Regions from separate parts of the Homo sapiens genome. Here all the other regions are reported to be linked to region 1. The links are microRNA targets in miRTarBase. Many come from high-throughput screens and were not tested one by one. Region 1 holds a microRNA gene; each other region holds the end of a gene's coding sequence.

Region 1 (5,084 bases):
CCCAAACATTTATCATTTCTTTGTGTTGGGACTATTTCAAATCTTCTAGCTATTTTGAAATATACAATAAATTATTATTAACTGTATTCACCCAACTCTGCTATGGAACATTAGAGCATATTCCTTCTGTCTAACTCTATTTTTGTACCCATTAGCCAACCTCTTCATCTCCCCTCCCCCATCCTTTCCAGCCTCTGGTAACTATCACTCTATTCTCTACCACTGTGAGATCAACTTTTTAAACTCTCATATAGGAATCAGAACATGTGATATTTTCCTTTTTGTGCCTTGTAACCCTGTCTTTTTCTTCATCCCCACCTTCCACTGCTGAAGTTCAACACTGGCAGATACTGCAGTGGCTGCTCAAGTGAATGGAGAACCTTATGATCTGGAGCGGCCCTTGGAGACAGATTCTGACCTCAGATTTCTGACATTCGATTCCCCAGAGGGGAAAGCAGTAAGTTTCTTTCTTATCAGGAATACAGTGACTACTAAACCAAGAGATATTGAAGCAGGAAATTCTAACATTTTATTCTTTTGCCGCAGTTTCTCCATTTGCAGTTGGGAGGGAGACCTACCACAGACTGTCTTGACTATTTCTGGTTAGGAAACTTATGGTGAAAGTTTTTAACTTAGCTTCGATCTATTAAGCAAACATTTGTGCTAGTGAGAGGGAGAGAGATGATATGTTGAAAAAACGAAAGGATAAATATGTAAATTCAGCCCCCTCAACTCTTGAGCACGTACATTATAAGTCATCTGTAGTGTATATTCAATTCTAACATGGCTTATACAGCTGAGCAAACAACCTGGTCACCTCCCCACCTTGTCTTCTTCATGTCAGCTCAGGTAGCACAGACCTTGCCTATTAGGATCCAGAAAAATAGAGTTCTCCTGCCATCTATGTGTAAATAGTGACCAAATCCAAGAGGAATATATCGCACTAGATTCGTGGGACAGAAAAAAATAGGACTAAAAGACCAAACAGAGACCTAAGTAACCACTGTGTTAAGAAGATAGCTTATTCTGGCCAGGCACAGTAGCTCACGCCTGTAATCCCAGCACTTTGGGAGGCCGAGGCAGGTGGATCATCTGAGGTCAAGAGTTCAAGACCAGCCTGGCCAACATAGTAGAAACCCCGTCTCTACTAAAAATACAAAAATTAGCTGGGCGTGGTGGTGAGCACTTGTCATCCCAGCTAATTGAGAGGCTGAGGCAGGAGAATTGCTTGAACCCTGGAGGCGGAGGTTGCAGTGAGCTGAGATCGCGTCATTGCACTCTAGCCTGGGCGACAGAGCGAGACTCCGTCTCAAAAAGAAAAATTATTCTGAAGCCCTAAAAGCTTACAGGAGCAGCAGAAGACTGACTGGCCTCCAGCTTCTATGCTTTGGAACTGGGAAGAACCAAGGATTGAGGGGTGGGGCTGGAGCTTCTATGCACTGAAAGAAGAAAAAATACTGGCCTTCTTTCTTTTCTATTCAGTCTTTTTTTTTTTTTTTTTTTTTTGAGATGGAGTCTCACTCTGTCACCCAGGCTGGAGTGCAGTGGCGCGATCTTGGTTCACTGCAACTTCCACCTCCCGGGTTCAAGTGATTCTCCTGCCTCAGCCTCCTGAGTAGCTGGGATTACAGACACACGCCACCATGCCTGGCTAGTTTTGTATGTTTTAGCAGAGACAGGGTTTCACCATGTTGGCCAGACTGGCCTCGAACTCCTGACCTCAGATGATCCGCCTGCCTTGACCTCCTGAAGTGTTGGGGTTACAGGCATGAGCTGCTGTGCCCAGCCTTTTTTTTTAAGCTTGTTACTTTTTAGTGGTCACCCCCAAAATCTAGGATCCCCATTTTGTGGTAGTTATTCCTAGAAGAACCATACCGGCTTTCCTACCAGCTTTTGTGAGGAAGAGCTCAGAGATCTAGGGGTTAAGGGAGAAGTTTATGAACTTGTGAACCCCTTTTTTGTGAACCCAGGTGTTCTGGCACTCCAGCACCCATGTCCTGGGGGCAGCAGCTGAACAATTCCTAGGTGCTGTTCTCTGCAGAGGTCCAAGTACAGAATATGGCTTTTACCATGATTTCTTCCTGGGAAAGGAGAGGTGAGTAATGAAAGGAAGGAGGAGAATGATTCTGGGATGGTTTCTGAGGCTCTTTTCAGGGGCCTTGGGCATGCTCCATTTGGATGAGGAAGCTGGAGGAGAAGGGTTTCTCTAGGTCTCAACTATGACATTAGTATCTCCTTCTGTGCTAGTCCATGTCCCTCTTCTAACTTTGCTTGAAATTTACCTTCTTGGCTGGTGCACATGTAGTCCCAGCTACTTGGGAGGCTGAGGTGGAAGGATCACTTGAGCCTGGGAGGTTGAGGCTGTGGTGAGCCATGATCTTAACCACTGCACCCAACTTGTGTGACACAGCAAGACACTTTCTCAAAAAAAAAACAAAAAGAAAAAGAAGAAACAACTTACTTTGTTACTTGTTAGCTTTCATAAATTCAAGTTTTACTTAATCGCCCTCATTACTATTGTTCTAACTTTGTCTATCCAGATTTCCTGCATTCAACTTTTAACTTCATGCATAGAGCTTTTTCTCCAGCTGTAATATCTGTTACCTGATATCCTATTTATATTTTCTCTGAGTTTGTCTGTCTTTGCCTATAACTCTAGATTTCTCTTGAAGGACAGGACCTTACCCGCTAGCCAACAGGTGTGTCACCCAGGTGATTGATGCACCTCATAGGATGCAACCCAACCAATTCTCCTCTTTCCAGGACAATCCGGGGCTCAGAGCTGCCTGTTTTGGAGCGGATTTGCCAGGAACTTACAGCTGCTGCTCGACCCTTCCGGAGGCTAGAGGCTTCACGGGATCAGCTTCGCCAGTTGTTCAAGGTGGGGTGGAGGGAAGAGGTGGCTCTTCCAGGACATCTTTGTGGGAATAAACACTTTTCTTCAATCTCCCTTCTACCTTTTTCCAGGATAACCCCTTTAAGCTTCACTTGATTGAGGAGAAAGTGACAGGTCCAACAGCAACAGTATATGGGTAAGAGTTGTCAAGATTAAGGCAAACAGAGAGGTGGGGAAGCATTGAAGAAGGCCAGAAATGCGATAAGGGAAGAAAGATAGAAGGTAATTTGTGTTGCTCCAGAAAAAGAAATGGGAATGGGAATTGATTTTTTTTTTTTCTTTTTTTGAGACGGAGTCTTGGTCTGTCTCCCAGGCTGGAGTGCGGTAGCACGATCTCGGCTCACTGCAACCTCCGCCTCCTGGGTTCAAGTGATTCTCCTGCCTTAGCCTCCAGAGTGGCTGGGATTACAGGCATGTGCCACCATGCCTGGCTAGTTTTTTTTTTTTTTTTTTTTTTTGAGATGAAGTCTTGTTCTGTCACCCAGGCTGGAATGCAGTGGCGCGATCTCGGCTCACTGCATCTCTGCCTCCCGGGTTCAAACAATTCTTCTGCCTCAGCCTCCCGAGTAGCTGGAACTACAGGCATGCACCACCATGCCTAGCTAATTTTTATATTTTTAGTAGAGACGGGGTTTCACCATATTGTCCAGGCTGGTCTCGAACTCCTGACCACGTGATCCACCCACCTTGGCCTCCCAAAGTTCTGGGATTATAGACATGAGCCACCGCGCCCTGCCAGGGAATTGATTTTTATCTGCCATTGCCCTCTCTCAGTAGGACAGTTCCTTTCTCTTCACCTCTTCTGTCAGCTAAAGACCATGAGAGGGAGAAAGCTAGAAGCTGAAGATTCTGAAAATCACTAACTGGCCTCTTCTTTCTCCTAGGTGTGGCACATTGGTTGACCTTTGCCAGGGCCCCCACCTTCGGCATACTGGACAGATTGGAGGACTGAAGCTGCTATCGGTCAGTTGTGGGACAGAGTTAGGTTAAGATTCCTATTTTGAGCCGGGCATGGTGGCTCACGCTTGTAATCCCAGCACTTTGGGAGGCTGAGGCAGATGGATCATAAAGTCAGGAGTTTGAGACCAGCCTGGCCAATATGGTGAAACCCCGTCTCTACTAAAAATACAAAAATTAGCTGGGTGTGGTGGCACACACCTGTAGTCCTAGCTGCTCGGGAGGCTGAGACAGGAGAGTTGCCTGAACCTGGGAGGCGGAGGTTGTAGTGAGCCGAGACTGCACTACTGCACTCCAGCCTGGGCAACAGAGCGAGAGTCCATCTCAAAAAAAAAAAAAAAAAAATTCCTGGTTTCACTGGGATGAGCAGGAGAATCGGAAGGTGATACTTTCTGTCGGCACCCCCCTTTTTTTTTTTTGAGACCAAGTCTCTCGGTCGCCCAGGCTGGAGTGCAGTGGCGCGATCTTGGCTCACTGCAAGCTTCGCCTCCTGGATTCAAGCAATTCTCCTGCTTCAGCCTCCCGAGTAGCTGGGATAATAGGTGTGCACCACCATGCCCAGCTACTTTTTGTATTTTTAGTAGAGACAGGGTTTCACCATGTTGGCCAGGGTGATCTCAAGTGATCTTCCCTTCTCAGCCTCCCAAAGTGCTGGGATTACAGGCATGAGCCACTGAGCCTGGCCCTGTACTCTCATAAGCTGAGCGGGGAATACAGGAGAAAGAAACTTTGTCCCCACATTCTAAAAACCCGTTTGATGGCACACACTGGACAGCCTGCTAGGGCCCAGAAGCCAATTCAGATGCCCTAATATGATGTCAGTATTAAGGGGGGTGGAGGGGTGGAGCAGGAGGGTGTGAGCAAGCTGGATGGGTCATACAGGGAAGGGTTGTAGAGAGAGGGGGCGTGGTCCAGGAGGAAGATGAACACCATTTGACAGGCACAGGGAAAATACCTTTAGTAAAGGGCATGCTTTTTATGAAAATACCGTTCTGCATGGTGGCTCACGCCTATAATCCCAGCACTTTGGGAAGCCGAGGTGGGTGGACCACCTGAGGTCGGGAGTTCAAGACCGGCCTGACCAACATGGAGAAACCCCGTCTCTACTAAAAATACAAAATTAACTGGGCGTGGTGGCACATGCCTGTAATCCCAGCTACTTGTGAGGCTGAGGCAGGAGAATCACTTGAACCTGGGAGGTGGAGGTTGTGGCGATCCAAGATCGTGCCAT
Region 2 (5,084 bases), not on the chromosome of region 1:
TTCCAGAAAGCAGCAGTATCCAGGGGGGGACTCACAGGAGAAAGAAAACACCAGAGGGCGGTGGTCCCAGGTACAGGGAGGGGTGGGGGAGCATCTCAGAGCAGGCATGGACGAAGACAGACCCAGAGAAGCAAAAATGGAGGAAGGCAAAAAGTCCAGGGAAGGGCCCGAGCCAGTGGCAAGGGACTGCCCCCTGTGCTGGGCCTGAGCTGTCTCTGACTTCAGGCTCAGTTTTCCAGGGCTGCTTTCATGGAGAGCGCCTGAACAGAAGCTCTGGCCAAGGGAGCCCCTGAGGCTACTTACCTGACCCCGGGGCTTCCTCTGATCTCTGGAACAGAGATCAGAAGTGATATCTAAACCAGGTTGTGGGAAATGAGGGACAGACAGCTTTGGATGGGGTACTTAGTGCAGCTCCGGGAGGCAGCTGCTGGCCCCAAGTGCTGGGAGCAGAGGGCGGATGGGATGGCCCGCTTCACTCCTGGTGGGGGCAGGGGCCAGCAGGTGGACACATGACAATGGGGATGTGCTCGTTCCTTTTGTGCCTGTGTCTGAACCAGATGTAGCACCTTCCTTCTGAAGTACCCTGAGAGCTGCGGGGGCTCAGCTTCCCCTGGGCTGGGTGGGGAAGAAAGGGCAGGGGATGGGGATGGTTATTGCTTTGTTGTGGCCAGAAGAAACAGGTGGAAGGAAAGAGCTTGCCCAGGGCCACAGAGGCTGCAGAAGGGATTACAACCCAGCTTCCCACACCTCAGGCTGGAACCTGTTCTATTGAGTGGAAGAGACTTTTCTAATCCTAAAGAATGAAACTAGAAGAGGGCTGAGAGAAGCCGCAGGTCCAGCCAACAGACACAGAGCTCATTGTCTTTCCTTTTCCCACCTCAGGGACCAGGAAGGAGGCGCTGGCCTGAAACTACAGTGGCCCCATGGATGGTGGTGGGAAAGCTGGAGCGTCCCCCTTTGGTTTGTCTGAGCTGCCTTGGAGGGTGGCAAGTGTCCTCTGGGAACTGAGGGAGGGGACGTCAGGCTGGGTGACCCTGGAGGGCACCCCTGAGGCCTAGAGAGGACTCTACTCCCAAAAAGCCTTGTGTCAGGCCTGATCTGGGAGATGTAGCTGCCTCTCTGCTTTCTGGGAAGCCAGTGGGATCATATTCTATAGAGATCTGAGGATGGCTGGACACTCGGGAAGGGCCTGGTCACCAGTGAAGTCAAATCCCAAAGGTGACACACTGAGGGGAGGCTCAGCCCCGGGGCCCCCATCCCCTTCACCCCACTGCCTCTGCCCCCAGGGAGGTGAGGGAGGGCTGGGACCCACGGAGGAAACAGCCAAGGCCCTACTTTTTCACGATCCTTTATTAATCAGAACAGGCCTTGCCACAAAAAGCAGGGCCCATTCCCACAAAAATATGATTTTGCAAAGAGGAAATCTTGCTGGCTTAGAGGGTATGTGTGGTGGAAAAATTTTGTATGGTTCTTTTTTTCCTGTTTTTTTTTTTTCTTCAGTTTTTCTTCATTTCTCTTCGCTGCAAAATTTTTTTTTTTGTGATGGTGGGTTTTTGTTTTATTTTTTATAAAACACTTGCACTCAAGAACATACAAACAGTGGCCACCAATCCCCACCCCTGGGGCTCCGGGGAGCCCCCCTGGCTTGTTTGTGGCTGTTTTCCTCTGTCCCTTCCCTGGCATCTGGTGCCAGAGGGCAGGTGCGGGGGTCCTGGGGCGGGTGGAATTTGTACAGCACTTTCATGGGGAGATGGTCACAAGAAAGGAAACCAGGACAAGATAAGGACTAAGTCTAGGGCACCCACAAAGATGGCAGACGAAGCCCATGAAAGGGCCTGCGACAGAGTGAAGAGACGGATGGGCCTGCGTTGGCCTCAGCTAGCTCTGGAGGCTCTGTGGGGGAGGGGCAGGTGGGCCTTGCAGTCAGGATTCGGTAATTACACTTTGCTCACGGGTAGCACCTTCGGAGTCCTCCTGCCTTGACCCCCAGGTCAGGTGATGGTGGCCTCACAACCTCCCCTATGAGGTAGGTGAAGTATTATTACCATCATTTTACAGATGGGGAAACCGAGGCCCAGGGAGTGCGGGTGACTTGCCCAAAGTCCTGGGATGGTGGCAAGGCTCCGGTGCCCTCCCCCCACCCTCAAGTTCCCCCATTCTCTGCTCTCCTATTGCCCTAGACCGCCCCCGCCCCATCCCATACCACCCTTACCTCCCGTGCTAGCCTACCCGGCCCTCGGCCCACCGCTTGCCGCCCCAACATAGCATCCCAGAGCTCCACCTGCACGTGGTGGTGGTGGGGCGCTGGGGAAGCCCAAGCCTGGTCGCTAATGTGCCTGGGTGGGGTCTGGTTGGGAAGAGACCCCTGCCAGGAGATGCTCTCTGCATAGGATTGGCTAAGAGCTCTGTGGGCGGGGCTCGGGAAAAATGGGGAGCCGTTGCCCCGCCCACTCGATACAAGTTGGTTGGATCCCCAGGGCGAAGGCGCCTGGAAGGTGGGGGCTGGCTCACTGGGCGGTCTTCCGCGGGGCAGGCGGGTGGTGGGGGGACAGGAAACCGAGGCGGATCCAAGAGAGGAGTGGAGAAGGGCAGATCCCCTCCTCCGCTCAAGACTTCCCACCACACTCTCTCCCACGTCCACGAGGCCTCGGGGTCGCTGCCCTCCCGTCCCGGCTGGGGGCCGCTCCCCAGCCCGCCAAAGAGGAGGATGCAGTTGGGGCCGACCCCATTTTAAGCAAAGCTACAATATAGAAACATTTGGATTTACAAGGAACGTGGGTGACTATTTGCTTTACATTAGCATTCTTCACTCTACAAAACGATTCACCTACTATGTATGATGTTCCTCCAGATCCCAGGGAGAGGAAATGGTGGGGGTGTGCGATTTAATTTCAGAAAATTTCGGTATGGGCAAAAGGCGACCCGTCTACTGCAGCAAGCAGAATGCTCAGCTCAAGGGGAAGCCGTTCGAAGGAAAATGGTTCCCAAATGCCAATGGTCTCCCCACGCCCTGGATGTGGGGACCCTATCCAGAGTCCCCTTCTTCTCTTTGGGGTGTCACAGGCCCATCCAGAGTGGAACTGGGGGCTAAGACCACGGCCACAGACTGTGGGGGCCTGGCGCCACCTGGCGGTAGTTCTGGGAATGTCAGGCCCAGGCTCGTGGACCCCCAGGATTGGAGGCTTTGTCACCAGCTGGGTCTTGTATCAATACCAGGACCAGCGTGGGGATGAGAGGGCTTAAGCAGGGATCAGCCTGAAATCTGCCGTCTCCAAGGGGAAGCCAGTTTTAGTCTCATCAGTGGCCGAGGCAGAGAAACCACAGCTTCTTTGTGTGTGGCAACCTCAGAACTCACAGAATCCTGGTCTTTTCCCTGCCTCCTTTCCCTGCACTGTGAGTGAGTCGGGCAGAAGGAGCTGCTCCCGGGGACCAGGGAGTGGGGAAGGGTGAGAAGACAGTCCTGGAGAAGGTCAGGTGATGGACGATCAGAGACCACGCACGATGAGACGGAATGAATGGAAGGTCTACAAGCATTGGGGGATGGAGGGGTGGAGGAAAGAAGGGTGGAGGTCTGCACAGGCAGGGAGAGATGAGGAAGGGCAGGCAAGCTGGAAAGCATGGAGAATAGGGCAGATGTGGCTGCGTATGAGGTGTGGGAAGCTGGCGGGGGGTCTTTTGATGAAGGAGTTAGGGCAAAGCTAGTCGGGGCTCGGGACCCCCTGAGAAGGAAGGGAGATGAGTCCTGGTGGAATGCTATGCACACAGTAGGTGCCTAAAAGGTGTGAGTCAGTGTTCAAGAGATGAAATTGCTGAGGAGGGAACTACTTCAGATTCTGAGCAGAGGGGGGCACCAAGGGGAGAAGGGGAGGAGACGGGGGGATGGCAGGAGGCAGCCCAGTTCTCAGCCCAGCTCCAGCAACTGCAGCTCTTCTGTTTCTGACCTCTGCCTCACCCGACCCCACTCAGCCCTATGGGCCTCTCCTCTCACACCCCCGGCCTCCAACCCTGCCTGGCCTTCACAAAACCTGCCTTCTCTGTATAGTCCTCCGCATTTCCAGGCCTCTGTCCCCACGCACACACACAATGGACACAACACGAGTACAAAGGGCCACAGCTCCAGGACCCAGGAGCGGGCTATATACTATCCTCGACATTCAGGGCCCAGCCGGCACCTGAAACTGCCCTGGGGATGGGCCTCTCCTGGCCAGGCCGGGGCCAAACGCCTCAGCCTCCCCTCCCCGGGTCCACATCGGGGGCTGGAGAGGGAGTGGCCTCTCTCCACTCCAGGTGCTGCCTTAAAGAAAATGGGGGACCATGCCCACCTGGCGGGCCTCTGGAGGGGTCTGCCTGTCTGGCCGTCTGGCTCTCGAGCTCCCCCAACTTCTTTAGTATTAGTAAGTCAGGAAGAAAAGGGGCAAAGCAGGAAAATGCCTCCCAGAGCCCCTTCCCCGGAGCTGGACTGTGGGGGATGGGGCTGGTACTTCCTAGAAACGGGGCCCAGTTGAGTCCTGGGACCCCTCCCTGGCTGAGCCCTCAGGGTCCTCCCCTCCCTATGGCAGGGGGCTCAGGCCGGGCGTTGTGCATAAAGTGGTGAGGGCATGATGGGGACCTGGGCCCTCGGCCCCCTGGGCCTCCCTTGGCCCCACTCAGGCCTTCAGCTGGTGCCACTGGGCCACGGGCTGCCGGGGACGGGCAATCATGTCCTTCCAGTGCTTCACCTCCCCTGGCCCGCTCTTCCAGGACAGGTAGATCTGGGGAGAAAGGGGAGACGATGGCATCGGCACAGGCTCCAGGGCACTGGCCCTTTCCCCCACAGGGGTGACACCCCAACTCCACCATGATACCCTAGCCTGTGGCCCCCCAGCCTCCACATGCTGTGACAACCTACCCCACAGAGGCGCTCTCCTCCCTCCCCCAGTCAGCCTGATCTATTTTCCTGGTTGTCTACCCCCACACCCCCAAGCCTGGGCACGCCAGGCCTCTCGGAATTAGACTGCCAACCTATTTTGCAGTGGGGTCTGGAAGGTGGGGTTGGAGGCAGCTTGTCTCCATGGCCTTCCCTGCCCTATCTGTTGGGTGATGTC
Region 3 (5,000 bases), not on the chromosome of region 1:
GGCATTTCAAACCATGAGATGGGGTGAAACCTTCCAGGGAGTGAGAGAAAAGGTCTAAGGACTGAGCCCCTGGGTTCCCCATCATTAGGAGGTCAGATGAGAAGGAGCCAGCCATGAAGACTGGGAAGGAGTGGCTGTTGTGGGGAGGTGGGTGGTGTCCTAGACACAGGTATCTTTTTAAGGCAGAGGGGCCCGGAAAAGGATCCTTGTAGTTTGAGTAGTTATGCCTCTCTCTGAGCATGGGCAGTTCGTTGGTGAACTGACAACGTGAAATACACATGATGCAATTCCACCGTGTGTCAAGTTTGAAAGCACTCCCTGCCAGTAGCGTGTGGGAGTGTAGGAATGGCAATTGTAATGAGACATCACAGTGTAAAATTCCTGAGCTCTGCTCTAGTACAGCCTGGGGACAGACGTCTGGGCCAAGAAGGGCTTCTGTGAGACAGCATGGAACAGTGGCCTGGTCAGAGAGACTTGGGCATGCATCTGAGGGCTGTAAGCCTCAGTTTCCCCATCTGTAAAATGGAACTCTAATCGCTGTCTCCATCTGGGAGGATTTTGTGAGGATTCAGAGAAACTGCACATGAAATGCTCCACCAGGCCCAGGAACTTACCAAGGTCTCATAAACGTGAATGATTCTATAACTGTCAAGCCTCTGCCAGGGGTTCTGAATGCTCGAGTGCAGACCAGAGCCCATGGGGACGCCCCTGTGCAGATCTGCTCAACCATTTCTTTCTTTCTTTTTTGAGACAGAATTTCACTCTATAGCCCAGGCTGGAGTGCAGTGGTACGATCTTGGCTTACTGCAACCTCTGCCTCCCAGCCGGGTTCAAGCAATTCTCCTGCCTTAGCCTCCCAAGTAGCTGGGACCACAGGTGCTTGCCACCACGCCCAGCTAATTTTGTCTTTTTAGTAGAGATGGGGTTTCACCATGTTGACTAGGCTAGTCTCAAACTCCTGGCCTCAAGTGATCCACCCACCTCGGCCTCCCAAAATGCTGGGATTACAGGCCTGAGCCACCGCGCCCAGCTATTCACCCATTTCTTACTCCCCCACTCAAGAAGTCACACCACTCTTGTCATTCCAAGAAATCTTAATTTCTTTATTGTTTGACTTTTTGACTCAACAATTTTTTTAAAACTTTTTGTTTTTTTCTGAAACGTTCTTGTTGTTATGAGCCTTTTGTTTTGTTCTCGTTAAATGCACTCGACCCAAAATTGGTTTGGCATATCGAAAAGGAGACCAAGGAGGGAGGGGCTGGGGCGTGGGAGGTGGGGAGGAGGCCCGAATGGACAGAAAGTTGAGGATAAGAGAAGAGGAACATAGAGACAGCCAGAAAGACATGGGGAAAGAGTGTTGGAGACAGAGAAAGGGGAAGGCAAGGGAAAGCCAAAAGAAACCAAAATCCAGAGAAAAAGAATTAACAAGATTTAGGAGCAAACGAGTTCAGGAGCCTAAGGAAGGGAGTAGGAGAGGAAACCAAGACCCTTCTCTGTACCGTCCCAGCTGGGGTGGGGGCGTCAAGGCACCAGGTCTGGTTAGGTTGGGGGGACACCTGGGCTCTGGGGGCGGCTTTGCACTGGACTGCAGTGATGTCCAGCCCCAGCAGGGGGCCCTGCCACACAGCTCTGAGGCCTGGAAGCCACCCGGCGATGCCGGCTGGAACAGGACCCGATACACCCTCTCTCCCTTTGATTGTCCGAGTCTGGAGAGATACAAGGAAGGCTGGGCAGGGAGGAAGTTGGCCTCTCTGTGTGCCTCAGCCCCCTGGAACTCTCCTGGCCCTCCTCCTGGTGTCGGGGGCAGCCACAGGCTGGGCTGCTTCCCGGGACAGGCCAGCTCCTCGCCTGCTCATGCCTCCTGCCCGCTCTTCACAGACCTCTGACCACCCCTCCACACAACAGAGCTCCCAGCCTAGTGCAGTCCGGGAAGGGCCATGGAACTGTCCCTTGCCCTCCTCAGAGTCGTCTGGCAAGACTGTCCCTGGCCTCACTTCTCCTCCCCATCTAGACTTCACCCATGGTCTTCTGGTGTAATGGGTTAGGCCTTTCTACCAGAAAAAGCCAGAGTTGGAACCCAACCCCACCTCTTCCCCACACCTGTTCCCTTACACGGGACAAACCACCATCTTTGGTCTGACCCCTTCTCCCCTAATTGATGGGGACAAGCCAGCCCCAGCTCCCCGGGAGAAGGGAGGGGCTTTCTAGCAGCAAAAAGGGTCCCTCCAGCCACCTACCTGTCCCCTTCCCCCCAGTTCCTTCCTAGAGCCCCTCCCCCTTAACCCAACAAAGTTCATGGCAGCAGCAGGCTGAGACCCGAAGATGTTTGAAAACTCATGGCACTTGTGAGAAAAGGAGGGGCAGAGAGATGGGGAGAGGTCAGAGCAGAGGTGGAGGGGCCACCTCTGGGGAAACGGCAATGCAGGGGCTGGGCTAGGGTGGCCTGGGGCTATGCTGCCCCTAGAGTTGAGGGAAGGGGGCTGGGGAGGCTGGCCTGACAGGCTGGAGAGGAGGGGGCCGGGACAGGTGCTCAGGACACATCCCGAGCCTGGAGCTTCCGGGGTCTGGGATTTGGGGTCAAGCCGCCCAGAACATGGGTGTCCCGACCCCAGCCCTGGCACCTGGCTTCGTCTTCCCTGCGGGAAGGTGGAGGATAGGGAAGGTGATCTCTCACCTTTGCCCCTCCCCATCCCCCAGACCGCCTTGCCGTTCCCAGCACCCTCCTCAGCCATACCCATGCCCTCCACAACCCCAGTGCCTCCCCATTTTCCTTCTGCCATCAACCTCTCTAGGTGGGAAATCAGCCCCATCTTCCCCGGCGAGAGTCCCCAGAGCAATATACAAGAAGCAGGAACTCAAAGGGACAGCGCAGCCATCTTGACAAAGCATCTTTGGGTGTGAAGAGGTCTCCCCCGGGCCGGTGGGGAGGGAAGGGGGAGACAGGCCTCTGGTCCTGGGGCAGGCAGTGAGAGGTACACGCCCCAGAAGGGCTGATGATGCCGGGCAGGCGGAGCAGGAAAGGAGGGTGCCAGGAAGGAAATGGGTTCTTTGTTTCGCTGTTGCATCTAGATTTTGTTTTCTGTCTCTGGATTGTAAAAAGCTGCTCTGGCGGCCCGCCCGCCCCGGCGGGGACTGGGGATGCACGTACACGGAGAAGTCCTGGCTGCCAGGCCAGCAGCGCTGCTCTGCTCCGGAGAAAGCCCGGGCTGGCCCGGGCCGCAGGCTCCCGGTGGCTTCAAGTGATGAGATTTTTTTTCTTTTCTTTTTTTTTTTTTTTGTCTTTTTTTTTTCTTTTCCATTTCGTTGAAATATTTACAGCAATGGGGAAGGAGGAGGAGAGAGGAAGGAGTAAGAGGGCCCCCTAGGGAAAGATCCAAGCCCAGGACCCACTCCCCAGGGAGATCCAGACCCAAAATCTGCTCCCCAGATAGCCGAGCCCACAGGACTGGGAACTGCCCAAATATGGCCACCCCTGTGGGCTGGGGGCCCTGCGGGGAGTTGTGCTTCATCAGGAGTCGCCCCAAGGGAGGGGGTCATTGGGTGCACTGGGAGGCAGAGGGGGCAGGTTTGCTTGCGGGGCAGGGACCAAGAGCAAGGGGAAAGGAGCTTCAGAGAAAGTTCAACCTTTAAACCACCAGCCACCACCGCCCAGTCCCCCTGCCCTGCGGCCTTTTCCCAGTCTCCAGGGAGCAGGGAATTACAGCGCAGGAGGAACCTGTCCATCTGTCCTGCCTCACTGCTCCCTCTGGGTGCAGCCGGCAGCATTTCTGGCTGCGGAGAGGAGCAGCTAACAGGTTCCATCCAGTGGGGGCCTTTGGCAACCTCAGAAGCTGCCCCTCCCTGCCCAGGAAACTAAAGCCCTCATTTCCCTTCACAGGGTAGAAGGGTGGGAGAGGGGAGAGTCTGGAAGTGGGCTGCACCCTTCCAAGTTCTCCCTCCTCACTCCCCTGGGGTCCTCTGGGCTCCTCCTCACTACACTTCCCCCAAATAGAGCTGGTGCGTGTGGCTGGTGGGAAACCCTGTCTGTGAACCCTGGCACCTCAGGCCCCCAGGTTAGAGTCCCCTGAGGGGACTGTAGGGCCCATGGCTGAGGGGCACCTGGAGAGAGTGGCCCACCAGCCACTGCCTCCATCTGTCTCCCTCTCCCACCAGAGCCCTGCCCAGGGTTCCCTCCCTGGCCTGGGCCACCAGCCCCTGGTCCATGAGGTGCCCTCAGAGACTGGTGACCAGCTGCATCTGCCCGTCCCCATCGGGCCCTGGCCCCTCAAGGCCTGGGGCTGCCAGGTAGCCCTCGTGGCTAGGACGCCGCACCTGGTAGTAGCCCTGCAGGGGATTCCGGGCCACCAGGGCTGGCGGGCGCGAGGTGTAGTAGATTTCGGGGGGGCCGGGGGGTGCGGGAGGGGGTGGGGGCAGGGCCTCACTGGGCCCCTCAGGGCTGCTGTCCGGGTAGGAGGGTGAGTCCCGCAGGTTGGCCCCGCTGGCATAGAGGGAGTCCCGGCCAGGAGGGGAGGAGAGGGGCCGGCTGGTGGCGCCGTCCTCGGCCGTGCAGCTCTCCGACTCGTCCAGATCGCTCTGGTACAGCACCGACTGGGCCCGGGGCAGCAGCAGAGGCTCCTCCAGGGCCTTATAGAGAAGTTCAATCTCGGCCCGGTCAGCACCCCCGGGCCCGCCCGCCTCTTCCTCGCCCCCGCCCCCTGGCACAGGTGGCACAGGGGGCTCAGGCGGTGGAGGGCCCTTGGCCGCGCTGCTGCTCCCCCGCAGGTTGTTGTGCACCAGCTCTGAGATGATCATCTTCTCAAAGGCCGCCGCATCGGCTAGGTTCCGGCCTCGGGGCGGCTCAGGGCCCCCATCCCCGGGAGGGAAATCCCCACTTCGCAAGGAGTAACTGTTATTGAAGTTGCCGTTCAGGGGCAGGGTGTCCATGCCACAGGCTTCCCGGCCTCCCAAGGGGTGCTCTGCAGGGCAGAAAGGGGCTGGTCAGGTTGAAGAGGGGCCCTGGA
Region 4 (5,084 bases), not on the chromosome of region 1:
GAATGTAGGGTATTATAAATGTTCACCAGCCATTTAAGGGACTTGTTCGCGTCCTTATTCGTTTCCTCCCAACTTTGTCTAGCTCCTGCAGTGTGATAGTCCTCGGACAGAATCACAAAGCCTCCTTCAGCAGAGTTCCTCCCCCTTCAGAGGACATCCTACACAGTCTCCAGGATACAGTTATCGAACTACTGCACTGAGACCTGGAAACCCCCCCTCTCACGGTTCTTCAGAATCATCCCTCTCTTCCACGTCCTATTCCAGCCCCGCCCACCCTGTGTCCACAGACTCGTTGGCCCCATTTACGGGGACACCAGGGTATTTTAGCAGCCAGCCACATTCTGGAAACAGCACTGGCAGCAATCTTCCAAGGAGGAGCTGCCCTTCTAGTGCTGCTAGCCCTACCCTGCAGGGACCCTCAGACTCGCCAACCTCAGATTCAGTTTCTCAGTCCAGCACAGGAACTCTGAGTTCCACCTCCTTTCCTCAGAACTCTAGGTCGTCATTGCCATCAGACTTACGGACTATCAGTCTGCCCAGTGCTGGGCAGTCAGCTGTCTACCAGGCCTCCAGGGTATCTGCGGTTTCCAATTCACAGCACTACCCACACCGTGGGAGTGGGGGTGTGCACCAGTACCGACTCCAGCCACTGCAAGGGTCAGGAGTCAAGACTCAGACGGGACTTTCCTAGGGCTTCTGGATTTGGGCAAACAGAACTGAATGAGCCCATAGCTGCTTCCTTCCAGCTGCCTCTGGAACCTAGGCCGAGCATATTGCTGAGGAACGGGGGGTACAAGGTGCCAGAGGATTGGGTCTGGTGGACAAGAAACAAGACTTGTGGTCACAATTGGCCTCTGGCCTTGGAGAAAGCTGTAAATCTTGTCTGAAGCAGAGACTATAAAGAAGTTTCTCCCTGCTGTCAAGGGTACATTGTTGACAAGCAAATGGTGTTTCGGTTAGTAACGGTTCTAAGTGCAATGAGTTGTGTTGAAGCCTCCGTCTCCCATCCTTGCCTGTAGCCCGTAGTCACTTGTGCAGTGAGGACATCTTTTTAAATTTAAAAAAAAAAAAAAAAAAAGTTTTCAAAGGAAAAAAAGTTAAAAGAGCCAATCTCAAAGCCCCAAGCCATCTGAGTACTGTTAGGGTTTTATGCACTTAAGAAAAAAGGTAGGTATGTAAATGTTCATCCTAAGACAACCATTCCAAAAGCAGGTATCTGGCCAATGTGTGTCCACCAAGAATACTGTTTATCTTTGTCTTAAGATCACCAAGAAATAGGCAAGGATAGTAAAGCTTGGAACCTGCACCAACTGGAGGGTGCCTGGCTCTTTGAAGAAAAGCTCATGGTCAGCTCTTGATTATTCGGGAGCAGATTATTTGAGTAGATTGTCTGAGCCTCCAACTGTTACCATCCTACTCCCCCTTCCCAAGCTATTTCACAGCTCAGTAACCCATGAAGTAAGTAGACAAGAAAAGGAGGAATGAGACATGATATAGGCCAATTGCATTGCTACTTACCAGCTTTTGGCAATAAATTTCATTAGGAAGGATACCGAGTGGTTTGGGAATGCTTCGAATTTTATTTTTTCTACTCCCAATTAATCAGGAGTTGATGATCCCATGAGCAGGACCGCCTCCATGATTGGGGAGCATGCACTTGTGACTGCAGGGTAAGAGTGGGAAGATAGGTTTGTGGAGTGGCACCGACAGGACTGTGATTGTGTGTGGGCCTGCCCCACATTTCTCTGGGGGATGCTTATGTGAGAGTGGGCCCAGTGAAAGAGTTACCAAGCCACCCACACCCCTAACACTGTTCTGGATGAGAGATGAGAGCAGACCGGCTTCTCCCCATCAGTGCATTGTGCCTGTTGTACACCCCTGGAGGAGCCCTGGAGCCAGCCCAGGTGGGGTACACAATCTTTTTAAATTCCATATGGTTGCCAGCTTATTTCTTTCACTTGTTTACTGTAATATCTGGCGTGTTTTTATTTATCTAATTTTGTATTCAGTTATAACCATGGTAGGGGTAGTGAATATATGACAGGTGTAATCCCTGGTGCTGCAGTGGACCTTCTTTTCTTTTGGACAAGATAATACTGTGAGTTTCCCTCCTTCCTTCCCTCTAATTTGTTTTCCTTTTTTCCCCAGCCTCTTGCATCCCCTTCTTTTCTACCCTGTCCTACAACTATCATATGCACAGTCTTCTCTCTTTGTGTGTGACTGTTACAAAATTTCACTTTTCAAAATCGAAATCAGGTGTTTGCTCAAATGAGGGGAGATTTTTTTTTTTTTTTTTTTTTTAAATGCTGAGACCTCAGCAGAGTACTTTTCTTTTTGTTGTTTCCCCCACAAACCCATCAGTCTGGGAGAGCATTGGGAGTGGAAATCATGTTGCCTGGGATGCTGGTTTCTTTGTATATTATATAAAACGTATGTAAATGTCTCTCCATTTGGGCTGGGGTTTGCATTCTCCCCTTGGCTATTTAACCAAGGGGAGAGGCCAGCGGGCAGGCGGCCCTCACCCTGCCTGGCACGTGCAGAGACCCCAGCCACTCTGTGTGGGCAGGGTGCTGTCAAGACCAGACCTCTTGGGGGGGTAGGGGCGGGGGGGTGGGGGGAACTCTTGGAAGGGAAGAAGTATCACTTCTTTCTCAAGTGGAGTGTTTACACCTTGCTGTAACATTTGAACTTTCACAAGAGATGTAATAATTTTGATAATAAAATTCTTAACCATAATAATCATAAAGTTGAGAACTTCTTTGTCCAATTTTGTGGCCCTGCCTTGCCTGGTTTTCCTAATGCCATTTTTATCTGAGGAGAATGTGCCCTTGGTGGAGTTGTTTTGCCCATGATAATGGGGCCAGGAATACTGTCTGATCTTCCTTCGCTTTTTATGATTGCAGTCAGGACAGTGTGAAGGCAAACCTGCAGCAGGGCAAGTGAACATTAAAAACTGCCTTGAACTTGAGTGGTGTTCCTGACCTTGGCCTCATTCATTCAGCAACTATTTATTGGTCTTTTTCATTCAAAAACAATGCTGGACATTGTTTTTGGTGCTGGGCTTATGGTGATTAGAATGCTGATTGGGGGTGGGCAAAGTAAGGTCTCTTCTTTCATGGAGTTTACATTCTAGTGGAGGAGAGAACTAAACTAGTATATAATTTTAAATAGTCATTGCCATGTTAATTGTTTCATAGCAGATATGTGACTAAGACAGTTGAAGGAGCCACTCTAGATTGGTTGGTCAAGAAAAGTCTCTGAGGAGTTGACATTTAAACTGAGACTTCAGTGACAAGGAGGCAGTCCTGGGACGATGTGAGTGAAATTCATTCTTGAACGTTGCAGACTCTGTGGTAGAAAAAGCTTGGTTAAGATGTAATAAATGGATGGGGCTGGGAAAGAGGATAGAAGATCCTGTAAGAGGGAGATAGGGGACAGATCATGTAGAGCAGGAGTCGGCAAACTCTTTCTATAAAGGGCCAGATAGTAAATATTTAGACTTTGCAAGCCATGTATGGTCTCTGTCATAACTATTCAGCCCTTTGGCTGGGTGCGAATCATGCCTGTAATTCCAGCACTTTGGGAGGCCCAAGAGAGCAGATCACTTGAGGTCAGAAGTTCGAGACCAGCCTGGCCAACATGGCAAAACCCTGTCTACTAAAAATACAAAAATTAACCAGGTGTGGTGGTGCGCACCTGTAATCCCAGCTACTCAGGAGGCTGAGGCAGGAGAATCTCTTGAACCTGGGAGGAGGAGGTTATAGTGAACCAAGGTCACTCCACTGCACTCCAGCCTGGGTGATGGAGCGAGACTCTGTCTCAAAAAAAAAAAAAAAAAAAAAAAAAAAAACAACTATTCAGCTCTTCCATTGCAGTGCAAAAGCAGGCATAGACAGTATGTGGCTATGTTCCAATAAAACTTTATTTACAGGAAACAAGTGGCAAGTTGGATTTGGTTTGCAGGCTGTAGTTTGCTGGTCTCTAATGTAGAACCTTGTAGGTATAATTTAAATAATCTGCATTCAGTAAGTACAGTGGAGGAGTCATTGCAGGATTTTAAGGAGAGAAGTGACATTGTCTAATTTATATTTGGTTGATTTTTAAAAATTACTCTGATTGTTTTGATCCTGTTGGTGAAGAGATGAATAGGAGCTGAGAAACTGGTGTGGAAGGTAGAGCAGTTGTTCAGGCAAGCAACAATGCAGTGGTGGCTTCTATTAAGACGGTAATGATGGGGATAAGAAGTGATTGGAGTCAGGATATGTTTTGCAAGTACACAGCAGAACTTGCCAATGGATTGAATTGGCAGTATTCTAACATTTGTTTGACAAATGTTTACTGAGTAACTAAGGTAGACTGCAGTTTGCAAAGCACATAAGGGATTCAAAGATGAAGATGCTATTTATTAGTTGAAGGAGTTTAGAAATGGAAGGCTGGGCGTGGTGGCTCATGCCTGTAATCCCAGCACTTTGGGGGGCCAAGGCAGGCGGATCACAAGATCAGGAGTTTGAGACCAGCCTGAACAACATGGTGAAACCCTGTCTCTACTAAAAATACAAAAATTAGCCGGGCGTGGTGGTGCGTGCCTGTAATCCCAGCTCCTTGGGAGGCTGGGGCAGGAGAATCGCTTGAACCCAGGAGGCAGAGGTTGCAGTGAGCCGAGATCGTGCCACTACACTCCAGCCTGGGCGACAGAGCGAGACTCCGTCTCAAAAGAAAATAGAAAGTGGAAACATAACAAAACCACTTGTTTTATTAGAAGATCCCTCCAAAATGCCCTAGGAATACCTAGGTAACCTACCACCAACCACAACCTGATTCTACCTGGGTTAGGAAGAGAATAGTGTGCATGATCTTTAGAAAGTGTTTCCATATACAGTGTCTTATTTTGACTCATAATTCTGTGAAGAAAGCAAGCCAAATGCCAGAAGTTAAAGATGAGAAATTGAGACCTAGTACAGTGTTTCAGCTATAGCACTGGGCTTCTGATAATGAATAAAACTAACTGATTTCTGCCATAATTGGAAGGTTCTGTTCCATGACCATTGGCTGAACACCTACTGTGTGCTAGGCTATATCTGAGG
Region 5 (5,084 bases), not on the chromosome of region 1:
CTCTGACCCGGTGCCTCCGCCGCTCTGAAAATGGCAGTTCTGGTCGGTCTGAAACTTTTGCAAAGCTTCGTATTTCCTCAGACCATTTTACAAGCATTATCTTGTTTCATCTTTCAACAGCCAAGTGAAGTAAATAAGCCAGACTTAGCCCCATTTTGGCAGATAAGGAAACAGGATTGAGGTGGCCCAGTGACTTGTTGAGGCCACACGGCTAGCTGGAGACTTCGTTGGAGCTGCAGTCAGACCTCTGAACTGGGTACAGAGTTCTTACCCAGCATCTGCCACCCTTGTGGCACCTGGGGCCAGTCCTAGACTCGGATCCAATAAAAAAGGTACAGGGGAGTTGCCCCAGGGATTGGGCACAGAGGGTGAGAGCTTCCTGAGGGGCTGCTCTGGGGGTGCAGTTACAACAGGTCAGCCGGGGAGTCCATAAAGCTGTCCTCTAAGGGAAAGGAACAAGGGGAAGAAGAGGCTGGAGGTCAGGGGCAAAGAGCCGTGTTCTCAGCTGGGCTGGAAGCCCCTTGTCCCTGTGGCTGTGTCTTCTCTCCCTGGGCAGGCTGTCATGGGAGGAGGTGGTGTGGGAAGTGAGGTCAGGGAGCCACTAGCTAGGCCTTGCTGGAGACCAGGCTGGGCAAGGGGGCCCAGCTTCTCATTTCCACCCTGACAGTACCTGACTGACTCCCAGTCCCCACAGGGGAGACTGACTCTGCGTCTCTTCCTGAGGTGGGGTGGGTAGGGGTTATCCTTGAGGAAGGGAGTGCTGTCTTGGGTCCTGTTTTCTGAAAGAGAAGAGTTGACTTCAAAAAGTTCAGGCCGGGCACGGTGGCACACGCCTGTAATCCCAGCACTTCGGGAGGCTTAGGTGGGCAGATCACCTGAGGTCTGGAGTTCGAGACCAGCCTGGCCAACATGGCAAAAACCCTTCTCTACTAAAAATACAAAAATGAGCCGGGCATGGTGGTGCATGCCTATGATCCCAGCTACTCAGGAGGCTGAGGCAGGAGAATCACTTGAACCCGGGGGGTGGAGGCTGCAGTGAGCCGAGATTGCGCCACTGCACTCCAGCCTGGGAGACAGAGCGAGACTCTGTCTCAAAAAAAATTTTTTTAATTAAAATGAAAGTTCGGAATCCAGCCCTCCCTACTGAGCCTGCCCTTTTTACTTGTGAGACGCGGGCTCCCTCTGCTGGTAGCTCCTGGAAGAGCTGGGTCACTTCCATTAGCTCACTAAGCGACGCTTTAGGGAAGGGATAGGGTGAGGGTTAACCCTTCCTGGGTGCATGCTCAGTGCCAGGCCCTGTGCCCACTGGGAACACAGATGAAGACCCTCCCCAGGCAGTGATAACTTGGCTGTCATCTGAGGGCTGTCACTAAATCTTTAGGCAGAAGCTGTACTCAAAGCTCCCCCTCACCCACAGTTCTCACTCACCCATGGCTCAGCTGGAGCTTATAAGAAAGGGGCCTGTGGTCAGGATAAAGTATGAATCCAGGTGCTTCCATTTACCAGCTCCTGCTCTGTAAGAGGAAGACCTGACTTTCCAGATTGCAAAGGTTCCTTGAGATGGTGTTTGGAGAGCCCACTGTGCTGCTTGCTCTTCCCGCCCCAGCTGTCCCATCGTTTTGAAAAGCTGTGGGATCCCCTCTGGTCCCAGGATCCCAGTCCAGTAGTCAGGGGGAGTAGGGCAGGACGGAAGTGTGTGAAGGGTTACTCCCAGGCTAGGTGAAATTTCCTTTAGGTGGTCACAGCAAAGGAATTCTGACTCCTCCAGGCAACAGAGTCGGCTGGCGGGTCGGGGGTGTTCCCCTGAAGGGCTCATCAAGTTCCCTGGCCCCAGAGCTCTCTCTGCACCAACTGGTTTCTTTGGGTAGCTCTGGCCACTAGTTTGCACTCTTTCCTAAAAGCTGGGTTCAGGGCCAGATGCAGTGGCTCAAGCCTGTAATCCCAGCACTTCGGGAGGCCAAGTGGGTGGACTGCTTGAGGCCAGAGTTCAAGACTAGCCTGAGCAACAGTGAGCCTCTGCCTCTACCAAAAAGATAGAAAAACTGCCATGATGGGGGCCTGCATCCCTGGCTACTTGGGAGGCTGAGTTGGGAGGATCGCTTGAGCCTAGGAGTTCAAGGCTGCAGTGAGCCATGATCATACCATTGCACTCCATTCTGGGAGAGATAGCAAGACTCTGTGTCTGTCTATCTGTCTGTCTCTCTCTCTGTATAATAAAGCTGGGTTCAGCCTGCTAGGACCATGGGCTGGGGTCTTCAGCTTTGAGTGAGTGGAAAACAGGCCCTAATGTCCAGGAAGCCAGTGTCCTCTAGGGTAGAAGACATGTTGTGTGACTGGTGTCTTCTCCCTGGAGCCATCGACGATGGGACCAGTAGCACTCGGGTTGGGGAAGGGCAGGAAGAGAGGTGCAGACCCGTTACAGCTGGGCCTGTCTATAGCTCAGCAGGGTCTGACTCCTCCTGACACTCCCCTCCGGCCTCTCAGACAGTGCTCGGGGTGAGAGCCACACCCACAGGGGCAGCTCCGTTGCCATCAGCTGCAGTGGCATAGTCAAGCTCCAGCTTCTCATTGCAGCCTGGTCAGTAGGGCAGGCAGGGGGTAGGGATGGGACAGGGACCTTCTCTCATCCACAGGCTAGAGGGGCCACTGGTCATCGTGAGATGGGGCCATGACTCTGGGGTGAGGTCCCCTCAAGGGCGCTGAGTACTTGAGGTTTGGCTATCAAATCACCCTGACTTCCTGACCAGCCCACACCCTCCAGACTGGCGGCTGGAGTACCTCTCTTGGAAACTTTAGTTTTTTGCCGTCCTCGCCTTTTGGGGCTGGCCGACTGTGGAGCTTAAAGAAGGCACGTGGTCTCTCAGTGTCCAGTCCCAGAGGCTCCAGTGTTGACAAATGTTGTTTATTGGTCTGTTACACAGAAGAGTATAGTTTCTGAGGCAAAAATCATACACACTCTGCTCCTCACAAAACCACGGAGTCACTAAGGCAGGCACACAATGGCCACACGTGCTTGGTGGAGGCCAAGGACTCACGGACAACAAGGATGGACAATGGGGTGGTCTGGCCCCCAGACAGGCTGTGCAGTGCCCGGGGGCAGGGCTGGGCTGGGCAGGCTGTGCTGGGTGCAGAAGGGCTGCGGGGCCCTTTGTCATGTTTCTCAAATGCAGAAAGTCTGCCAGACTTTGGTGGCTGCTGGACTAGGCCCCAGCCCCGGGCAGGGCCTCCATGTTCCAGGGCAAGGCCTAGCCTGCATGTGTTGGGGTAGAGGAGGAAGTGGGGATGGCCGAGCAAGCAGCATGCCTAGGCCTGGGGGCAGGAGCTATGCCCTTCCTGGCACCCCCGCATACACAGCTCCTCCAAGGGGGTTTCTGGGTTCCTAGGCCTCTTGGCATCCTGAGAAGCATGTGGAAGGCAGAGCTAGCCTTGCTTCTCACCAGGGACAGATGGGGACACCCATGCATCCCCTGCCTCCCGCAGTCTCAGGGACATGGCAGATGTCTGCGACAGATAATGGGCTGCCCTCGAACTGAGGCCTGTCTCTGAGGGGAGGCTGTGACCGGATTCTTCCCCGACAGAGTCACCCTGGGATTCCTCAGAGCAAGTGCTCCGGTCGCATTCCAGATCATCCACTGGCAAAAGCATCACTTCTTACACGTGGTTTTCAGGGAAGTACCTAATGCAGAACGCAAGGGTGGGGTGGCAGGAGCGAGGCTGTACAGATACACAGAGGTACACTGTACAAGGCCGGGGAGGCCTGGGGGTCACCTCAGGTGGCCAAAGGCAGTGGCAGTGCTGCTGAAGTGGGCTGCTCCCACCCAGGGCCCACATCTTCCGACTGCCCCAGAATCTCGGGGGAGCGGCCTGAAGGCGGCCCGGGTCTCCCGTGCCCGGGTCTCCCGCACCCGTGACGTGTGCCTAAACCAGAAGCAGTTTTGGTTGCTCCAGCTGGGGCTGGTGCACGCACAATATACTGGGACTGCAAAGGGACCCTCAGAAGGGACACAGCACAGAGCCTCTCGCCCTCTGCCACCCCAGCTGAGTAGGGCCCAGGCCGCTATAGCCCCTGTTAATCCTGTGGGGCCCCAGGTTCACTCGTGGGCAGCAGTCCAGGCTGCGGCTGCAGGTGGCAGTGGGGCTACTCCCAGATGTGTGAGAGGGGAGCAGAGTAGGTGTGTCCCCCAAGGCAGCTGCTCCCTGAGGCTGACCCCTCCCATCCCGGCCCTGATCCGAGGGCATCCTGGCCCCTGACTTGCCCTGCAGGGTCAGCACTGCCGGGAGTCGGATCCAGGCTCACAACCGCTTTGTTAGGAACAGAGGTGGGGTCGGTTGGTGGCTGGGGAGGTCTGGGCGGTGACTCCCCTGCACCTCTCCCTGCCGGAGCCCAGGCTCTGCACGGCTGCTGCCTCCTGGCCCCAGCTCACTTGTTCTCTATGAGCATCTGCACCTTGTGGACGAGGTCCCGGGCAATCCGCAGGATCTCCTGGGCATCGTGATGCTCAGCACGTTCTGGGGGGAAACGTGAAGAGCTGTAGAGAGGCCCAGAGAAAGGGCAGCAGGCTAGGAGGTGGCTGACTACCCTGCTCTGTTTCCATCTGCTCTGCTAGATTCTTGACATCCCGGCCTTTGGGGAAGGGCCCCCAGGATTCCTGAGAACCCTCCAGCTGTGTGCGGGGCAGAGGTGGGGGCCTCCACACCTCTGCTCAGGGCAGCCTGGATGGCTGGACCAGCTCGTACCATTGAAAAACTTGATGATGTCAGTGAAGTCCATGTTGTTGTCACGGATGATCTCTCGGTAGGCCTCCACCAGGGCGAGGGCGATGAACAGGACAAAGTGCTCCGATGAGATGTGCCTGGCTGCCCAGATCACCTCCCACACAGCAAACACATCCTCATACAGCAGTTCTGCGGAGAGTAAGCGGCTGCTGCTCACCCGTCCTAGCCGCATATCTGGGGCTGAGGCTGGGATTGAGGCTGAGGCTGGGATTGAGGCTGGGGCTGAGGCTGAGGCTGAGGCTGGGGCTGGGGCTGATGCTGGCCGGACTGGCTGCTCACAGGCCTCTAAATGGAGCCAGGTGAGGGAT
Region 6 (5,084 bases), not on the chromosome of region 1:
ACCAATACCAGAAAATAAATCGGGTGACATCAGATTCTTGTAGGCAGGCAGGTTTTATGAGAACCCTGGTATCAAATTCCCAAAGTAAAGAGCACACACCTTTCAGCTTACCACTGCACATCCCCACTGCCCAGCACAGTGCCTGCCACATAGTTAGTGCTCAAATATTTATTCCATGTTTTTGCATGTGCTGGGACTGGCCATATTTATTACAATAATTGGATTTGTAAACAGTAAAAATCTCATTTTACATCTGAGAAAACCAAAGTCAGGGATGAAGTGAAATGCCTGAAATAAAATAGCTTCTTAAAACTGGGCCTCAAGCTTCCGGTATTCTTTCCACTGTACCACTTTATTGATGTGTATGATGTAGTGTTGATTTTAGCCTGGCAGGTAAATGTTACTTGTTTGTAGAATAAGATGTGACCATTCATGCCACTTGAAGGAACCGTAAGGCTTAGATTCTTTAACCATACTTTTTATTACTTTGTTTAGGCATAGGTTTAGTCTCTCTTATCAAGAGATCAGAAGCTGAATGTGGAGGCAGAATGATAGAGCAAATGATAGAGCGGAGCAGTGCTGCTAAGCAGCTAGGCATTTTTCTAGGCACTTCTCTGCTGAGGCTGTTTTAAGTAGGTGGACACCCTGTAGTTCATATATTTGCATGTTTATAGTTTGTAACATACAGAACATGCTTAGTCAAGTATAGATATTCTTTGTAATTAACCCTCAGAATAGTATGTATTCTGATCCCTTGTTCTTTATTCTCCAGGCACCATACAGGAAGATTACTTGAGAGAGCTGCTGACAACCATGGGGGATCGGTTTACAGATGAGGAAGTGGATGAGCTGTACAGAGAAGCACCTATTGATAAAAAGGGGAATTTCAATTACATCGAGTTCACACGCATCCTGAAACATGGAGCCAAAGACAAAGATGACTGAAATAACTTCAAATTCCAGCCAAACGTTCCTTGTTGCCACTTTGGGTATTCTGAGATTTTCTCTTGCATGCCCTTAGCTTTACAGCTTTTGCATTTCCTGTTGTATTTATTCTCAGCCATTTTGGGCATATGTATCTTTATAATCAGACTGGAAACGGGACTTTCTATTAATATCATTTTCAGAATAAAAAATAGGATAATTTAACCTACCAGCCCTTCTCCCCCAATAACTGTGGTCTATACAGAGTCAATATATTTTTTCAGAGAAAGTTATTCGCTCGATTTTTTCTGAATCATAATTAAACTTTATGATAAAATACTTACTTGTTTAAACTTCTTATTTACCAAACTTGGCTTTTGTTGGTTTCAGTCGTATCTCCCAAAGAAAGGTAGATGAGGGAAATCCTAGAAAATGATATGGTTGTTAGCTTTCTCTTCCTCCAGTTTTCCTAACAATCCTATCTCCTCTACTATCCATTCCTCCTCCTCCTCCCAAGGATATCCAATTTTAACTGCCCTAATCAGGTTTTCTGCACTTTGTCTTCCAATTTTTAAAATAATTTCCTGTAGAATTTGCATATATGATAGTTTCCATAGCTTTAAGTCCTTAAGTTGACATACCTGCCAACATTTCCACTTTATTTAAACTTTTGTAATTTCTGGTCATTTAAAATTAGACCAGGTTACTGAGTATAATTTCAATTTGTCATATTTTTAAAAACCATTTTGGCTTAAAGGTTCTGTGGAATGCTACCAAAGAGAGATTTTTATGTTATGTTTTAAAGTGCTGGAAATATAATGCAGTATTTTTTTTATTATATGTAGTTTTTCTTTAACACAGCAATGTGTATTGAAAGATATTTGTTTATGCAGAGATTCACCATGAGTCCATGTTTGAGTTTTGGACATTCCTGACCTTCCCACAATCAAAACAGCTGAACCTGCATGCCTGGGAAAGTGAGGTCATTATTTCAGTCCTAAAAATAACTTCTACTATTTGCAGAAATGCAGAACTGTTTCACAGTTAATCAGGGAGTGGCAGACAGTTTCGTTCTTTTTCAGCTTTAAAAATCTGACTCTCAAAGGGCTTCAAGATTCTCTTTTTTTTCCAGACAGGGTCTCTCGCTCTATCACCCAGGCTGGAGTGCAATGGCACGATCACAGCTCACTGCAGCCTTGACCTCCTGGGCTCAAGTGATCCACAGCCACCTGAGTAGTTGGGACTACAGGCAGGCACCACCATGCCTGGCTAATTTCTTAATTTGTTGTAGAGACAAGGTCTCATTATGTTGCCTAGGCTGGTCTAAAACTCCTGTACTCAAGTGATCTTCCCACCTCTGCCTCCTAAAGTGCTGGGATTACAGGTGTGAGCAACCATGCCCAGCCCAAAACTCTGACTCTCAAAGAGCATGAGTTTTAAAAGATTTGAAATGGAGAAAAATTTGGTTGAAAAGATTTGACAATTAGCCTATGAAGATGAGTAATTGACAATTACTATAATAACTTTAAGTTTTATGCTACGATTAACATGACTCTCCTTGGACAAAACCATTACCTCATTCAGTAAACAATTACTAAAAGCCTTCTGGGCAGCAGGCCTTTGCAGCCAATAAGATAGATCAGCTAGATCCTGTAACGTGGGAAGGCCAGTGCTATAGGAATAGAAGGACTAGTCAAAGCTAGTCCTTGACCTCTTCAGCATTAGAATCTTAGAACCTGCCTTCATTCTTTGTCTTTTGTTTCTGAATTTTATTCACTGGTTAAGCCAAAATACTTTTTCCAGGCTATGGCCATGGTGCTAAAATCTTGTTTTTTGAATTGAATTTCCATGTCAAGAGAAAAAATTATCATATGCTTTGTTACATCTCTAGTGAAGAACAGATAGCATTGTTTGCACTATATGAAAAACAAGGTACTACTAAAAGGATCTCTTGCAGGGCCCCTGTTTCCCTTTCAGATAAGTGCTTAATGAACCAACTTGCATTAAGAACAATGATGTACCCTGAATGAAATAATTCTCCTAATTTAGTAATAGCATTCTTTGCTTAAACAAGAGTGATTGCCAACAGAAAGGTAAAAGCATCCATTTCAATGGTGTGTTTGACTGAAAAATCAGTCTCAAAAGTTTCCATGATGAAAGTCATACTTAAACCATTTCAAAAGATCTGGCTAGGCACGTTGGCGCACATCTGTAATCCCAGCACTTTGGAAGGTCGAAGTAGGAAGACTGCTTGAAGCCAGAAGATTGACATCAGCCTGGGCAACAAAGCAAAACCCCATCTCTACATAAAAATTAAAAATTAGCCGGACATGGTGGTGGGTGCCTATAGTCCCAGCTACTCTGGAAGCTAAGGTGGAAGGATTGCTTGAGCCCAGGAGTTTGAGGCTGGAGTGAGCTGACTGTGCCACTGTACTCCAGCCTGGGGTGACAGCGAGACCCTGTCTTGAAAAAGAAAACAAAAATCGGACAAAACCAGCCTAATGGGGGTGGCATCCTTATCCACCTGCATATGATGATATGGTCATTTTGATTCCAGGCCCCAAATTTTACTTGATGAAAGAATCTATAACTTGATGAGAGCAGGAATTGAATGCTCCTGGGAAAGAAAGGAGGAAGGCCTGAGCATAAGAGACAAGTAACAGCAAATTGAGAAGGAAAGGAAACCATTTGCTACAAAGTGAAAAGAGGAAGGACAGCAAGAGGCTTAACACCTAGACTTGAGGATCAGATAAAAAATGATCAGAGTTTGGAGAGGTAAATAGAGCCACAAAAACAGTCTTACGGAAACCTAGTTAATTTCAAGAGTAAGGAGGTTGGCAGTGTCCAACACAGAAAAGTGGAGTATGGGAAGGTTTAAATGAGACCCTCCCAGATGTGACAAGTCGTTAGTCATGTTTGCTAGAGTTATTAGAGTTCTGAGTGCAGAATCCATAATGCAGCACAGGATAGTGAATAATGCCTAGGTGTGGGGTCAGGCAGACCTACACTTAATTCCCGTTTGTTGCTACGTCATGGCTCTATAACCTTAAGTCAGTTATTTAAACTTCCTTGGCCTATTTATTCATTTATAAAACGGAAATAATACTGTTGGTTCATATTAGGAACATAATATATAAAGCAGCATTTGTGTGATTAAGAGCAGCACGGATTTGGAGCCATACTTAAGTGAATTGCACCTGCCTATTTGACTTTGTGTTCTTAATTGCCAGTTTCCTCATCTGTAAAATGGCCAATACCATCCAAGTTTCTTCTGAAAATTAGAAGCATGAAAGACAAATGGTCTGGGACACATTAGGTCTCCAAATAGTAGTTATTTTGTTTACGAGTGGGCCAGTGAGAAGGGGCAAAGGGCATATCTTCAAATTCAAGCCTGTTTATAGGCAGAGTAGAAGACAACAAACTAGGGGGGAACAATTAGTGAAACAAAATGGATCATGTCTAAGAGCTAGGATGTGACAGAACCTAGACCACGTAGGATTGCCCTTAGAAAAGTGGATGGATTTCAAGGTAGAATTTCATTAACAGGTTGTTAGGAAGATTTTATAAGACTATGCATACAAATGCCTGTCAGTTTGGTACTAGTGGATTCTGAAATAGTTCACTTTCGATTTCCTGAGCAGGTCCAATATGCCAGACTTGTGTGTGTCGAATTAGGTCCTCTTCACGGGTACAGTTTATTTTTTCTGTCCATAAAGGGATTGTAGTAGCTAATCCCACATTGAAGAAATGCCCAGTTTTCCCATTGCTGCTTATTCGAGTCATTTCCACTTGCTCTTCCATCTTCCAAGTCCCTATATCTTTTTAGTCTAGATTTCTCTGTGTCTGCTCAAATAGCAGGAAATGTGACTTTTCTCCAGTATTTATCCACACACATTTTAGAGTTGTAATGAGTTTACAACTTGTTTTTTCGTTTACTACTTAAATTATATCTCATGTTTTGGCATAGCCACCATTGTTTTGAGTATATTTCTTTTTCAACCATTCTTAACTTCAGTTATCTTTGATGTGGGCATGCTATAATTAACAATTTCCCAATGATAGATATTTAGCTATCCAGCTATTTTTATTAGTGAATAAATTTTTATTCATGATTAAACAAAGCCTATTATAGGCTTTTCTTTTGCATCTAGAGAGAACAA

What was found. Region 1 holds the annotated microRNA hsa-miR-6878-5p (AGGGAGAAAGCUAGAAGCUGAAG, at 3,720-3,742, shown strand). A microRNA usually pairs through its seed, bases 2 to 8, with sites in the 3' UTR of a target mRNA and lowers its output. Matches are read on the target gene's strand: a 7mer-m8 pairs with bases 2 to 8, a 7mer-A1 pairs with bases 2 to 7 and ends in A, and an 8mer does both.
Region 2: miRTarBase lists SYT7 as a target of hsa-miR-6878-5p. Seed matches in the 3' UTR shown: 7mer-m8 at 3,856-3,862 and 7mer-A1 at 1,100-1,106.
Region 3: the mRNA of ADGRL1 is a reported target of hsa-miR-6878-5p. Seed matches in the 3' UTR shown: 7mer-A1 at 3,888-3,894 and 7mer-m8 at 2,186-2,192.
Region 4: the mRNA of SETD5 is a reported target of hsa-miR-6878-5p. Seed matches in the 3' UTR shown: 7mer-m8 at 908-914, 7mer-A1 at 1,000-1,006, 7mer-m8 at 1,843-1,849 and 7mer-m8 at 2,468-2,474.
Region 5: the mRNA of SGSM2 is a reported target of hsa-miR-6878-5p. The part of its 3' UTR that is shown has no 7-base or 8-base seed match.
Region 6: the mRNA of MYL12A is a reported target of hsa-miR-6878-5p. Seed matches in the 3' UTR shown: 7mer-m8 at 1,161-1,167.

Annotation. Positions count from the first base shown.
Region 1 is chr1:150,488,631-150,493,714 of GRCh38, forward strand. MIR6878 (microRNA 6878) reads left to right here and starts at 3,715; the gene lies at 3,715-3,780. TARS2 (threonyl-tRNA synthetase 2, mitochondrial) reads left to right here. Exons shown (of 18, transcript NM_025150.5): 3 at 334-457; 4 at 1,971-2,095; 5 at 2,764-2,881; 6 at 2,968-3,032; 7 at 3,781-3,859.
Region 2 is chr11:61,513,981-61,519,064 of GRCh38, forward strand. SYT7 (synaptotagmin 7) reads right to left here. Exons shown (of 13, transcript NM_001365809.2): 13 at 1-4,751. The coding sequence ends at 4,647. Among named protein-coding and RNA genes, the nearest start is that of LRRC10B, 7.8 kb to the left of the region's middle.
Region 3 is chr19:14,146,661-14,151,660 of GRCh38, forward strand. It overlaps ADGRL1 (adhesion G protein-coupled receptor L1), which reads right to left. Exons shown (of 23, transcript NM_014921.5): 23 at 1,083-4,955. The coding sequence ends at 4,213. All of the region lies in intron 1 of ADGRL1-AS1 (ADGRL1 antisense RNA 1), which reads left to right. Among named protein-coding and RNA genes, the nearest start is that of ADGRL1-AS1, 12 kb to the left of the region's middle. RefSeq lists an enhancer at 1,218-1,961.
Region 4 is chr3:9,475,401-9,480,484 of GRCh38, forward strand. It overlaps SETD5 (SET domain containing 5), which reads left to right. Exons shown (of 23, transcript NM_001080517.3): 23 at 83-2,754. The coding sequence ends at 691. Among named protein-coding and RNA genes, the nearest start is that of LHFPL4, 76 kb to the right of the region's middle.
Region 5 is chr17:2,378,857-2,383,940 of GRCh38, reverse strand. SGSM2 (small G protein signaling modulator 2) reads right to left here. Exons shown (of 24, transcript NM_014853.3): 23 at 4,738-4,905; 24 at 2,887-4,509. The coding sequence ends at 4,421. Among named protein-coding and RNA genes, the nearest start is that of MNT, 20 kb to the left of the region's middle. RefSeq lists an enhancer at 911-1,120.
Region 6 is chr18:3,254,974-3,260,057 of GRCh38, forward strand. MYL12A (myosin light chain 12A) reads left to right here. Exons shown (of 4, transcript NM_006471.4): 4 at 773-1,263. The coding sequence ends at 945. It overlaps MYL12-AS1 (MYL12A and MYL12B antisense RNA 1), which reads right to left. Exons shown (of 4, transcript NR_130145.1): 3 at 1,269-1,349; 4 at 463-865. Among named protein-coding and RNA genes, the nearest start is that of MYL12B, 4.6 kb to the right of the region's middle.